Regions from separate parts of the Homo sapiens genome. Here region 1 is linked to region 2. Evidence: fine-mapped expression QTL. Tissue or cell type: whole blood. Region 2 holds a variant in brackets; the other region holds the start of a gene. All regions are shown on one strand. Distances are between the middles of the regions.

Region 1 (5,000 bases), 64 kb after region 2:
CTGAAAGAAGGGTAGATTGTTAAATTCATCCCAAGTAGGGGAAAAAAACTCAGCAAATCCTATTTGCCTGGGATACTATTCCTACTTGGTGCTAATATTCCAAAATAATAACAGACGAATTTGCTCCGATGTGATGATAGAGTGTGTTGAGTGTTTACCTTGCAGCCTGGTAAAAGGGAAAGGTCATTTAAGTAGGAAGAACAGAGTACTTCTCCTAGTTCTAACCAGGTGGGAACTTGGAAAAAGTCCCTTCTCTCAACCTGTTTCCTTAATATTCCTAAATGCCAGGAACTGAGCACAGACTCATTCACTAGCCTGTTTAAACCACCTCCCCCACCCTCACCCCAAAAAAACTGTGAGGTTGGTAATATCATCCTCTCAATTTTATAGATGAGAAAAGGGGCCGGGTATGGTGGCTCAGGCCTGTAATCCCAGCACTTTGGGAAGCTGAGGTGGGCAGATCACTTGAGGTCAGGAGTTTGAGACCAGCTCCGACAAAACGGCGAAACCCCACCTCTACTAAAAATACAAAAATCAGCCCGGCGTGGTGGCGGGCGCCTGTAATCCCAGCTACTCTGGAGGCTGAGGCTGGGGAATCGCTTTAAACCGGGAGGTGGAGGTTGCAGTGAGCCGAGATCACGCCATTGCACTCCAGCATGGGCGACAAGAGCGAAACTCCATCTCAAAAAAAAAGAAAAAAGAGAAGAAAAAAGAGGTACAGAAAGAGAATAATTCGCCCAGAGTCGCCCAACTTGTAATAACGCTAGAACCCATACTCCAACACGGCACCTGCTATTTCCATCACATGAGCTTCCTAATACCTTTTAATACCCTTATTTCGTGCGATTATTCTGCCACTAGCAACCCTGTTGACCACGCCTTGTTATAAAACGTATCTTTCTGGGCCCAGAGCCGTGGCTCACACCTGTAATTCCAGCACTTTGGGAGGCTGAGGTGGGAGGCTCACTTGAGGCCAGGAATTCGAGACCAGTCTGGCCAACATGGGAAAACCCCGCTCTACTAAAAATACAAAAATTAAGCGTGGTGGTGGGCGCCTATAGTCCCAGCTACACAGGAGGCTGAAGCTGGAGAACTGCCTGAACCCAGGAGACTGAGGCTGCAGTGAGCCGAGATCCAGCCAGGACACTCCAGCCTGGGCAACAGAGCGAGACTTTGTCTCAAAAAACAAACAAACAAACCACGTGTCTTTCTGGATCTCTCTGCCAGTCTTCTCCTCCCCTTCCGGTTTTCTGGTCTCCCCCTTCCCCTCCCGAAGTCTTGCATGTGGAGATTCCTATCTTGCTCTTCCCTTTCTCAGTGACCTCCCTGAGCCCTGTGGCTCCTCCTACCAACCACTTTATATGGAAATTAATAATAATTTGCGTCTCTAGCCCAGAATTTCAAACTAACTGCCCAGCTCGTCAGCGCTAAGAGGATAAGGACTCGTCTGCTTTGTTCAATGATGTGAATCCAGGCCGGGCGCGATGGCTCACGCCTGTAATCCCAGCACTCTGAGAGGCCGAGGCAGGCAGATCACGAGGTCAGGAGATCAAGACCATCCTGGCTAACACGGTGAAATCTCGTCTCTACCAAAAATACAAAAAATTATCCGGGCGCAGTAGTAATCCCAGCTACTCGGGAGGCTGAGGCAGGAGAATCGCTTGAACCCGAGAGATGGAGGCTGCAGTGAGCCGAGATCGCGCCACTGCACTCCAACCTGGGCGACAGACAGAGCGAGACTCCGTCACACACACAAAAAAATGTGAGTCCAATCCCCTATGCCCGGCGCATGGTACGTGCTCAACAAATCTGTGTTAAATGAAAGTTTCAGAGGCACCTCAAACACAATTACGTCAAAACCTCAGGTTGCTTTCCCCCAGTAATTCAAAAAAAACCCCAAAACCTGCTTCTGTTTCTCGAGCATTCCCTATCTCAGTGTTGCGGGCAATAACGCCAGTGTCCCCGGTAGCTCCGGGAGGACGCCTAGAAGTCACCCTGGTTGAGAGTCTTCTTCCTCACCGCTGGGGCCCGAAGCAGCTTCGGGAGCCACAGTCGCGGGAGCCGCTCGCGCGTCACTGACCCTGTGGAGCCCGGGTGAACGAAATCTCGCGTGATTTGCCGGAAAGAGGCTGTACTGCACGACCCCAGCTCGCCCCCAGGCCTCGGCCCTCTGACCGCAGTACGCAGGCGCGCGACTAGGCCCGGCTCCGCGCCCCCTCCCCTCCCAGGGGCGGGGTTTGGAAGCTTAGGGATTGGAAGTTTAGGATTCCTGGGCGCCCCACGTTTCCGGGAGAAGCAAGGGAAATGCGGAACGTCAGGGGAGAGTTACTAGTCTGGGCAAAGTGCATTAATAACTTAACTGAGATTGGTTCCTTGTGGCCGCCCCTACTGCCTTGACCCAAAGAGCAAATCTTGCAGCCTTGACCAGTGAGTTCACATTTAGCAGTCCGTGAAGAAGTTTTATTAGTTTTGTGGATTTCTCCCTGAACCTCGATTGGGAAATTATAGTGAGACAGGGACCGTCAAGCCTACTCCTTGTTTTATAGATGGGGAAACTGAGTCTCGGAGAGCTGATGTGATTGGACCACCTACCTTTCAGCTGGTTAGGGGCAGTGCTGGGATAAAACCCCTCTCTCCGGACCCTAATCCAGGGCCCCTTTGCGCCTCTTTTATTTCACGAAGAATACCAAATTCCTCCAAGATTACCAGTGTGGGCTGATTTCTCAATTTCATTCATCGTTAGTCGTCTCCTTTTGTGCTGGACTGGGTTGAGAGAAGTGTATACCTAGGACAGCTTCGGATCCCCAGGGACTTCAAACCCTAAGAAAGATCATCTGAATTAGGCAGGTATAAGAATTGCTTGTATTCATGTGGGAGCTAATAGCTCAGCACAAGTCATGCATGGAGTAGCTGAAAGATGACTAGGTTGGTGAGCAAGGGAATAGTGATCAAACAGGTTGGAGTTCCTGGTAGCTTTATGTCTGAATATTTTTGCTTCTTTGGGAAAGCTTCAGGAAGGACTAGGAGAATTACACTACTTTGCAAACATTTTCAGACAGGAGCTAATCTCTTTTATCTGTCATGGACAGGTAGACAGACCTTCAATGCCTTTTGTAATGACTTAAACCAAATGATGAAAAATAAAATGCTCAAATAGACAAAAAGTAGTAGTATAAAATAAAGGTAATCTAGAACTTGATTTAAAAGAAACACTTTCAAAATAGAAAAGAAGCCCTGCAATATTAAATTAGTTTTGGGGCTGGACGCAGTGGCTCACGCCTGTAATCTCAGACCTTTGGGAGGCAGAGGCAGGTGGATTGCTTGAGTCAGGAGTTCGAGACCAGCCTGGGCAACGTGGTGAAACCGCATTTCTTCAAAAAATAAAAAATAAAATGAAATTAGCTAGGTGTGGTGGTGCTTGCTGGTAGTCTCTCAGCTGCTCAGTAGGCTGCAGCGAGCCTTGATCACACCACTGCACTCCAGCCTGGGTGACAGACTGATACCTTGTCTCAAAAATTTTAAATATATGTATGTGTATTAATTAGTTTTAGCTCTCTTGATTCTAGGGTCTGTGAACTCCTTGTAACAAGTGTGATTTTTCTCGCCAAAATGAGTTCCCAAAAATTCAAGAGATGAGTAGAGGATTTATAGGTACATTTCTATCCAGTTTATCCTCTTCTTCTAAATTTTCTCTAACACCAAGGATTACTATCATTTACATAATGCGTAGTTTGAGTTGGATAATGCCTTATATGATTTTTTGCCTACATGATTTAATTTTCAAAACAGCCCTATTATTATTATTACCATTTTACGAATGAGGAAACCGAAGTTAAGCTAGTTAAGTTCTAAGTCAGGTTAAGTAACTAATAAGTAAAGGAGCAAGTTATCCTGCCTGAGTCCAAGCACCTGACCCTTTGTTATATTTGCCATAAATCTGGAATTCCCTACTCCTCCCTCTTTGCAGAACTTTGTACTGCCTCCTTCTCATCGTTCAAGCAATTCCTGAGAATCATTTTCTTTTTTTTCTTTTTTCTTTTCTTTTTTTTTTTTTTTTTTTTTGAGACGGAGTCTCTCTCTGTCGCCCAGGCTGGAGTGCAGTGGCACGATCTCGGCCTACTGCAACCTCTGCCTCCCGGGTTCAAGCAATTGAGCCTACTGAGTAGCTGGAACTACAGGTGCATGCCACCACACCCAGCTAATTTTTGTATTTTTAGTAGAAATGGGGTTTCATCATGTCGGCCAGGCTGGTCTCAAACTCCTGACCTCAGGTGATCCACCTGCCTTGGCCTCCCAAAGTGCTGGGATTAAAGGCATGAGCCACCACGCCCAGCCCTGAGAATCATTTTCTAGACTTCACTAGAAGGAAGTGTCAATTCTTCTCATCTCCATCTTATCAAAAAAAAATACATAGTATATATTGTTTCATTCAAGCATGATAAATATAGGCCAGGTGCAGTGGCTCACACTCATAATTCCAGCACTTAGGGAGGCGAGACAGGAGGATCACTTGAGGCCAGAAGTTTCAGACCAGCCTGGGCAACATAGGAGACCCCTATCTCTACAAAAAACAAACAACAACCAAAAAAAAAAACAAAAAGAAAAAAAATAGCCAGGTGTGGTGGCACACACCTGCAGTCCCAGCAGCTACTCATGAGGCTGAGGCAGGAGGATCGCTTAAACCCAGGAATTCCAAGTTGCAGCTAGCTATGATCTCATCACTACATTCCACCCTAGGTGCCAGAGTAAGACTTTGTCTCAAAAAAAGAAAAAAAAAAAAAAAAAAAGCCAGGCACTGTGGCTCAAACCTGTAATCCCAGAACTTTGGTAGGCCAAGAGGTAGGAAGATCGATTGAGCCCAGGAGTTCAACACCAGCCTAGGCAACATGGCAAAACCCACCTCTACAAAAAATTTTAAAAATTAGCCTGGTGTGATGTGTGTGCCTGTTGTCTCAGCTGCTTGACAGACTGAGGTGTGAGGATCACTTGAGCCCAGGAGG
Region 2 (8,521 bases):
ATACTCTGTGCACAAGGTTATTCATCACGGCAACATTATTTTAAATGGCTAAATACTGGAAACAACGTAAATATTCATCACAGAGACTGACTAAAAAGCTATAGATACTGCAGTAGTCCTGCATAGCAAAAAAAAAAAAAAAAAAAAAAAAACCTATACAATAGAAACAGGGTGGAATATTACAAAGCTTAGAACTAAAAACTGAATCACCATTTGAACCAGCAATCCCATTACTGGCTATCTACCCAAAGGAAAATAAACTGCTCTACCAAAAAGACACTTGCCCTCACATGTTCAATGCAGCACTATTCACAACAGCAAAGACATGGAATCAACCCAGGTGCCCATCAATGGTAAATACGATACAGAAAATGTGGCACATACACACCATGAAATACTATGCAGCCATAAAAAAGAACAAAATCATGTCCTCTGCAGCAACATGGATGCAGCTGGAGGCCATTATCTTAAGCAAATTAACACAGAAACAGAAAATCAAACACCATGTTCTCACTTATAAGCGGGAGCTAAACACTGGGTACTTATGGACACAAAGATGGGAACAATAAACACTGGGGATTCCAAAAGCGGCTACGGGGCAAGGGCTGAAAAACTACCTATCAGGTACTATGTTCACTGCTTGGTCAACAGGGTCATTAGTAGCCCAAACTTCAGCATCTTGGAATATACCCTTGTAACAAACCTGCACATGTACCCCCTGAATCTAAAATAAATTTATTTTAGCCAGGTGCAGTGGTTCACACATGTAATCCCAGCACTTTGGGAGGCCGAGGCGGGCAGATTACTTGAGGTCAGGAGATCAAGACCAGCCCGGCCAACATAGTGAAACCGCATCTCTACAAAAATTAGCTAGGCGTGGTGGCGGGCGCATATAATCCCAGCTGCTTGGGAGGTTGAGGCAGGAGAATTGCTTGAACCCAGGAGGTGGAAGTTGCAGTGAGCCAAGATCATGCCACTGCACTCTAGCCTGAGCCAGAGTGAGACTCTGTCAAAAAAAAAAAAAAAAAAAAAAAAAAAAAAGGCCGGGCACGGTGGCTTACTCCTGTAATCCAGGCACTTTGGGAGGCTGAGGCGGGAGGATCACGAGGTCAGGAGATCAAGACCATCCTGGCTAACACGGTGAAACCCCATCTCTACTAAAAATACAAAAAGGTAGCCGGGCGTGGTGGCGGGCGCCTGTAGTCCCAGCTACTCGGTACGCTGAGGCAGAAGAATGGCGTGAACCGAGGAGGCAGAGCTTGCAGTGAGCCGACATCACGCCACTGCACTCCAGCCTGGGAGACAGCAAGACTCCGTTTAGGGGAAAAAAAAAAAAAAAAAAAAAAAAAAAAGGCCATATGAAATGTCCAGAACAGGCAAATCCAGACACAGAAAGCAGATTAATGGTTGCCAGGGGCTGGAGAAAGAGAGACATGGTCAATGATACTAATAATGGGACTTCTTTTTCTTTTTTTAATCATCTCCTGGATATGGGGATCCTTTTTGGGATGATGAAATGTTGTGGAGTCGGACAGTAGAGAAAACTGTAAAACTATGAATATATAGTTGGCCATCCACATCCATTGATTCAACCAAGCAGATAAAAAATATTCAGAAAAAATAAAAATAAAAAATAACAGGCCAGGCGCAGTGGCTCATGCCTGTAATCCTAGTACTTTGGGAGGCCAAGGCAGGTAGATCACTTGAGGTCAGGAGTTCCAAGACCTGGCCAACATGGTGAAACCCTGTCTCTACTAAAAATATAAAAATTAGCCAGGCACATGCCTGTAATCTCAGCTACTTGGGAGGCTGAGGCAGGAGCATCACTTGAACCCAGGAGGTGGAAGTTTCATTGAGCCAAGATCGTGGACCACTGCACTCCAGCCTGGGCAACAGAGCGAGACTCCATCTAAAAAAATAAATAAATAAAAAATAACAATATAGCAATAAAAAATACAAATAACCAATATAGCATAACTATTCACATAGCATTTACGTTGTATTAGGTACTATCAGTAATCTAGAGATGATTTAAAGCATATGGGAGGATATGTGTAGGTTATATGCAAATACCATGCCATTTTATGTAAGAGACTTGAGTATTTGTGGATTTTGGTATCTGTGGGGTCCTGGAACCTATACACCACAGATAACAAGGGATAATTATATTACTACTAAAAATCACTTAGTTGCACCCTTTTCTTCTTTTTATATTTTAGATGGAGTCTCACTCTGTCACCCAGGCTGGAGTGCAGTGGCATGATCTCGGTTCACTGCAACCTCCCCCTCCCAGGTTCAAGTGATTCTTGCACCTCAGCCTCCTGAGTAGTTGGGATTACAGGCACATGCCACCACACCCAGCTAATTTTTGTATTTTTAGTAGAGATGGGGTTTCACCATGTTGGCCAGGCTGGTTTTGAACTCCTGACCTCAGGTGATCCACCCACCTCGGCCTCCCAAAATGCTGGGATTACAGGCATGAGTCACCATGCCCGGCCGGACTGCACACTTTTTTGAGATGAATCTTATGGTATGTGAACTATATCTCAACTTAAATAACCTGCATTTGCTTGTATATGCAAAAAGAACCACTGGAAAAGTAAACCAAATAGGAAATAAAAAGTGTTTATACCTATAAGAGAAGGAGGGAGGGAACATGGTAAAGAGACACACCTATAATCAAGGCTTTTTGAAAAAGAAACTGAAGCAAATCTACATATCAAGCTGGTGATATATTAAAACAATGATTTAAAGGGTATTTAAACATAGTATTATTCTAAGAACCACAGCTCCAAAAGTCTTAAACTTCATTCTGTAGACAAATTGATAATATTGGTATTATCATTTTGAAACAATATTGTATTAATGTTATGAACCAAGATTTTCGATGTAAGAAAAAAATAAAGTACAAAAAAATCCCCTGAAAATTGTTTAATGTGAAAATTTAAATTGGAATTATCAACATGAACCAATTATTTTCTTTTCAAAAATATGTCTTTAGTTCTTTCCACCGAAAAGTTCTAGAAACAGTAACAACCTTTTTATTTATTTATTTTTTTGAGACGCAGTCTCGCTCTGTTTCCCAGGCTGGAGTGCAGTGGTGCATCTCGGCTCACTGCAGCCTCCACCTCCTGGGTTCGAGAGATCCTCATGCCTCAGCCTTTCAAGTAGCTGGGATTACAGGTGTATGCCACCACACCCAGCTAATTTTTGTATTTTTTTTTTTTTGTAGAAACGGGGCTTCACTGTGTTGCCCAGGCTAGTCTCGAACTCGTGGGCTAAAGTGATCTGCTCGCCTCAGCCTCCCAAAGTGCCAAGATTACAGGCATAAACCACTGCGCCCTGCCAACGATGACAACCTAACAGCAACGGGCACATGGCACCCAGACTGTGGTTCCAACTATAAGGAACCAGGACTCCATGGAGGAATAGCTGATTCCAAGTCCAAGGTAAGCCTGGGAACTGTTGTTGTGTTAGAAAGCAGAGAGGCTATAACAAGACAAATGGGTCATGTCAAAAGCATAAATACAGCATGAGAAGCTCCAAAAATAACAACCAGGCCAGGCACGGTGGCTCGTACCTATAATCCCAGTACTTTGGGAAGCCAAGGCAAGTGAATCACTGGAGGCCAAGAGTTCAAGACCAGCCTAACAAGGCAAAACCCCATCTCTACTAAAAAATATGCAAACATTAACAAGACATTGGTGGTGGACGCCTGTAGTGCCAGCTGCTCAAGAAACTGTGGCATGAGAATCACTTGAACCAGGGAGGCCAGTATAATTACCCTCATAGAAAAGCTAAAGATATCACAAGAAAACATTACAGACCAATATCGCTCATGAACATCCAGACTCCTTTTCCTCCTTCCTTTCCACTCTCCCGCCCTCCTTCTCTATCTCTCCCTTCCTCTCATCCTTCCTTCCTTCCCTCCCTCCCTCTCTCTTACTGATTTATTATTTTTTGTAGAGGACAGGTCTCCCTATGCTGCCCAGGCTGGTCCAGAACTCCTAGGCCCAAGCAATCCTCCTGCCTTGGCCTCCCAAAGTGCTGAGATTACAGGCATGAGCCACCACATCCAGCCAGCTGTAAAAATTCTTAACAAATTATGACAAAACCAAGTCTAGCACCACATAAATAGGACTATACACCCTGACCAAATGGGATTTACCCTAGAAACACAAAGTTGGTTTTACATCCAAAAACCAACTACTAGCAGTAAAATTAGTAGCATACAGTACAAAAACAAGATCATCTCAACAGACACACGAAGGTGTTTGACAAGATCCAATACCCATTCATAATAAAAATTCTCAACATACTAGGAAGAGAAGGTAAATTCCTTCATCTGATAAAGGGCATCTATGAAAAAACTACAGCTAACATCAAATTTAATCATGAAAGGCCAGGTGCAGTGGCTCACACCTGTAATCCCAGCACTTTGGGAGGCTGAGGCAGGTGGATCATTTCAGGTCAGAAGTTCGGAACCAGCCTGACCAACATGGTGAAACCCCATCTCTACTAAAAAAAACAAAAATTAGCCAGGCATGGTGGCGAGCGCCTATAATCCCCACTACTCGGAAGGCTGAGGCAGGAGAATCGCTTGAACTCAGGAGGCAGAGGTTGCAGTGAGCCAAGATCACACCACTGCACTCCAGCCTGGGCAACAGAGTAAGACTTTGTCTTAAAAAAAAAAAATTAATCATGAAAGAATACATGCTTTTCCCCTAAGACTGGGAAAAAGACAAGGATACGTACTCTCACCACTTTTTTTTTTTTTGAGACAGATTCTCGCTCTATCACCCAGGCTAGAGTGCAGTGGCGCGATCTCGACTCACTGCAACCTCCACCTCCTGGGTTTAAGC[G/A]ATTCTCATGCCTCAGCCACCTGAATAGCTGGGATTACAGTCATGAGCTACCACACCTGGATAATTTTGTATTTTTAGTAGAGATGGGGTTTCACCACGTTGGCCAGGCTGGTCTAGAACTCCTGGCCTCAGGTGATCTGCCTGACTCGGCCTCCCAAAGTGCTGGGATTGCAGGTGTGAGCCACTGCGCCCGGCCTCACCACTTCTATTCAACATTGTACTCAAGGTTCTAGCCAGAAAAAGAAAGTAGGCCGGGCACTGTGGCTCATGCCTGTAATCTCAGCACTTTGGGAGGCCAAGGCAGGTGGATTACCTGAGATCAGGAGTTCAAGACCAGCCTGGCCAACATGCTGAAACACTGTCTCTACTAAAAATACAAAATTATCCGGGTATGGTGGCTCACGCGTGTAATCCCAGCTTCTCAGGAGGCTGAGGCAATAGAATCTCTTGAACCCGGGAGGCAGAGGCTGCAGTGAGCCCAGATTACGCCATTGCACTCCAGCCTGGGTGACAGTGGGAGACTCAGTCTCCAAAAAAAAAAAAAAAAAAAGGAAATTAAGGCCAGGTGCAGTGGCTCATGCCTGTCATCCCGACATTGGAAGGCTGAGACAGGAAGACTGCTTGATCCCAGGAGTGTGAAACCAGCCTGGGCAATATGGCAAGACCCTGTCTCTATAACAATTTTTTGAAAAAACTAGCTGGGGGCCAGGCACGGTGGCTCATGCCTGTAATCCCAGCACTTTGGGAGGCCAAGGCGGGCAGATCACTTGAGGTCAGGAGTTCAAGACTAGCCTGGCCAACATGGTGAAAACCCGTCCCTACCAAAAATACAAAAATTAGCTGGGTGTGGTGGTGTATGCCTGTAATCCCAGCTACTTGGGAGGCTGAGCCAGGAGAATCACTTGAACCTGGGAGGTGGAGGTTGCAGTGAGCTGAGATTGCGCCACTGTATTCCAGCCTGGGCAACACAGCGAGACTCAAAAAAAAAGCTGGGCATGTGCCTGTAGTCCCAGCCTCGGGAGACTGATGTGGAAGGACTGCCCAAGCCCAGGTCAAGGCTGCAGTGAACCATGATCATGCCACTGCACTCCAACCTGAGCAACAGAGGGAGACCATGTCTCAAAAAAAAGCAAGAAAGAAAGGAAATTAAAGGCATCTAGCTTGGAAAGGCAGAAGCAAAACTATCTTTACTCTCAGATGACATGATCTTTTATGTAGAAAACACTAAGAAATCTATTTTTTAAAAACTACTAAAACTCAGCCAAGTGTGGTGGCTCATGCCTGTAATCCCAACAACATTTTGGGAGGCCAAGGTGGGAATACCACTTGAGGCCAGGAGTTCAGGACGAGCCCAGGCAACACAAAGACTCCATTTCTACAAAATAATAGAAATTAGCTAGATGTGGTGGTGTGAGCCTGTAGTCCTATTGCAGGAAACTGAGGACTGGAGAGACTGATACGGAGAACAGGAGGATTGTTTATTTTAGGTACGCACCAGCTCAGTGGATTCACATCCAAAAAGCTGAGCATTAAACAAAGACGGAGTGGGGTTTTTGTAAGCGGACTTACAAAAGTAAAACAAAAGCAGTTAATCATGACAGGTCACATACTTTATAGCATAGCATAACTTGTGGCCTTGCATAGCTGGTGACCTTATAGCTGCATTGAAAGAAAAATAAGAACTGGCTAAATACAGACATTTGCAAAACACAGTTATGCTTAAGAAGCCAGGGAAAGGAGTAACAGTAAAGGAATTTGTCTTTCCTTTTTTTTTCCTTCAACCTTGCTCTGGAAGAGGGGGTGTCTGGAGTCCATTCCTTTGGCCTTGGCTTCTCAAACAGCGTTATCTTATAACTGTCCTTGAAGTGAGCTTGCTAGGCAGAGGAAAACTTGTTCTTTTCTTTTTAACCCTTGCCTTGCCTGTTACTTTTCTTGGAGTGAATGAATGCATATTTATTTTTAAATTTCTGCCTCAGTCCCAGCTACTGGGGAGGCTGAGGTGGGAAGATCACTTGTTCCCAGGAGTTCAAAGGCTTCAGTGAGCTATGATGGTGCCACTGCACTCTAGCCTGGGCAATAGAGTGAGACTTTGTCTCTAAAAAAATAAACAGAAAAGAAAAAAAAAAATGGGGTGTAGGAGGAGGGGGAGAACATCAGGATGAATAGCTAATGGATGCTGGGCTTAATATCTAGGTGATGGGATGATCTGTGCAGTAAACCACCATGGGACACCTTTACCTAGGTAACAAACCTGCACATCCTACACATGTACCCCTGAACTAAAAAGCTGGAAGAAAAAAAAAAAAGAAACTACTAAAACTCAAGCATTTACCAAGGTTGCAAGATCAATGTACAAAATTCAATTGTATTTCTATATACTACCAATGAACAACTCAAAAATAAAATCAAGAAAACATTTCATTTGAAATAGCATCAAACATGAAATACTAGAAGTAACTAGAGCATCAATTCCTTATTCTCAAAATTCACAATTAAAAGAATTACATATTTATCCTGTCTTGCCTATGCAAATGATCAAATAGCCCTACTTGATATTAGTGGAAGAGTCCAACTAAAGAGTCGCACAGTACAGAAGAATTCCAACTAATGTGAAAGGAGTAAAGGAATAAGAAAAACCACCATTTTACAATCCTTTATGAAATAAGAGATTCAGGTATCATTTAGGAATGAAATCAAAAGGTGAAAGGTTGGCTGGGTGTGGTGGCACGTGCCTGTAATCCCAGCACTTCGGGAGGCCAAGGCAGGCAGAGCACTTGAGGTCAGGAGTTCAAGACCAGCCTGGCCACATGGTGAAACCGTCTCTAGTAAAAATACAAAAATTAGTCGGGCGTGGTGGCACGCGCCTGTAATACCAGCTACTCGGGTGGCTGAGACGGGAGAATTGCTTGAACCCAGGAGGCGGAGGCTGCAGTGAGCCAAGATCACGCCACTGCACTCTCGCCTGGACAACAGAGTAATACTGTCTCAAAAAAAAAAAAAAAAAAAAGAAAGTGAAAGGTTCATAGGGAACCTTATAATACAGGGATCAGGCCAGCTGAACCCATGGATCAATTTTGACAACCAAGCACTGTGAGCTTCCTGATGTGACACAAAACGAAGCACACAGAACCATCTCTGACATATTCTTGCCCAAAACTTCCAAACTTTGAAGCTTTTAGAGCTTACTTACATTTATAGGAAACGTAGAGAAACAAGTTAAATGACATAAATGGAAGCAAACCAATATATCCAGAATGTGGGCTATTCTATAGGAGTCAACTGACTCTGTTTTGCAACAACTCTATGAAAAAAACAAACAAACAACAACAACAACAACAACTCAATGTAGAAAGATCTAGATTTTTAAAGACTTAATAACCAAATATAATATTGGATCTTGTTGGATCCTGATTTAAACAAACCAACTTTAAAAGACATTTTCGAAACAAGTAGAAAAAACTGAACATGGATTGGTTATAAGATAAAACCAAGGAAATATTAATTTTGACAGGTATAACACCACTGTTGCTATATAAAAAAAAATTTCTCTACTTTGGTGAATCTTTCACATAATCTGACACAGTAAAGTAAAATAAAAACGCTCTACAATCCAAGCAAAACACATCTGAAGTCCACATCTAGCCTACAGGATACCAGTT

The links. PIP is the estimated chance that this variant, and not a neighbour inherited with it, causes the effect.
Region 1: it holds the start of PTGR2, and the variant in region 2 is fine-mapped to the expression of PTGR2 in whole blood (TOPMed, PIP above 0.99).

Annotation. Positions count from the first base shown.
Region 1 is chr14:73,849,024-73,854,023 of GRCh38, reverse strand. PTGR2 (prostaglandin reductase 2) reads right to left here and starts at 2,193. Exons shown (of 10, transcript NM_001146154.2): 1 at 2,081-2,193. RefSeq lists an enhancer at 2,398-2,447 and a silencer at 2,057-2,459.
Region 2 is chr14:73,911,518-73,920,038 of GRCh38, reverse strand. The region is part of intron 8 of ZNF410 (zinc finger protein 410); the gene reads right to left. Among named protein-coding and RNA genes, the nearest start is that of ZNF410, 29 kb to the right of the region's middle. The variant G/A (reference allele first, on the strand shown) is at 4,863.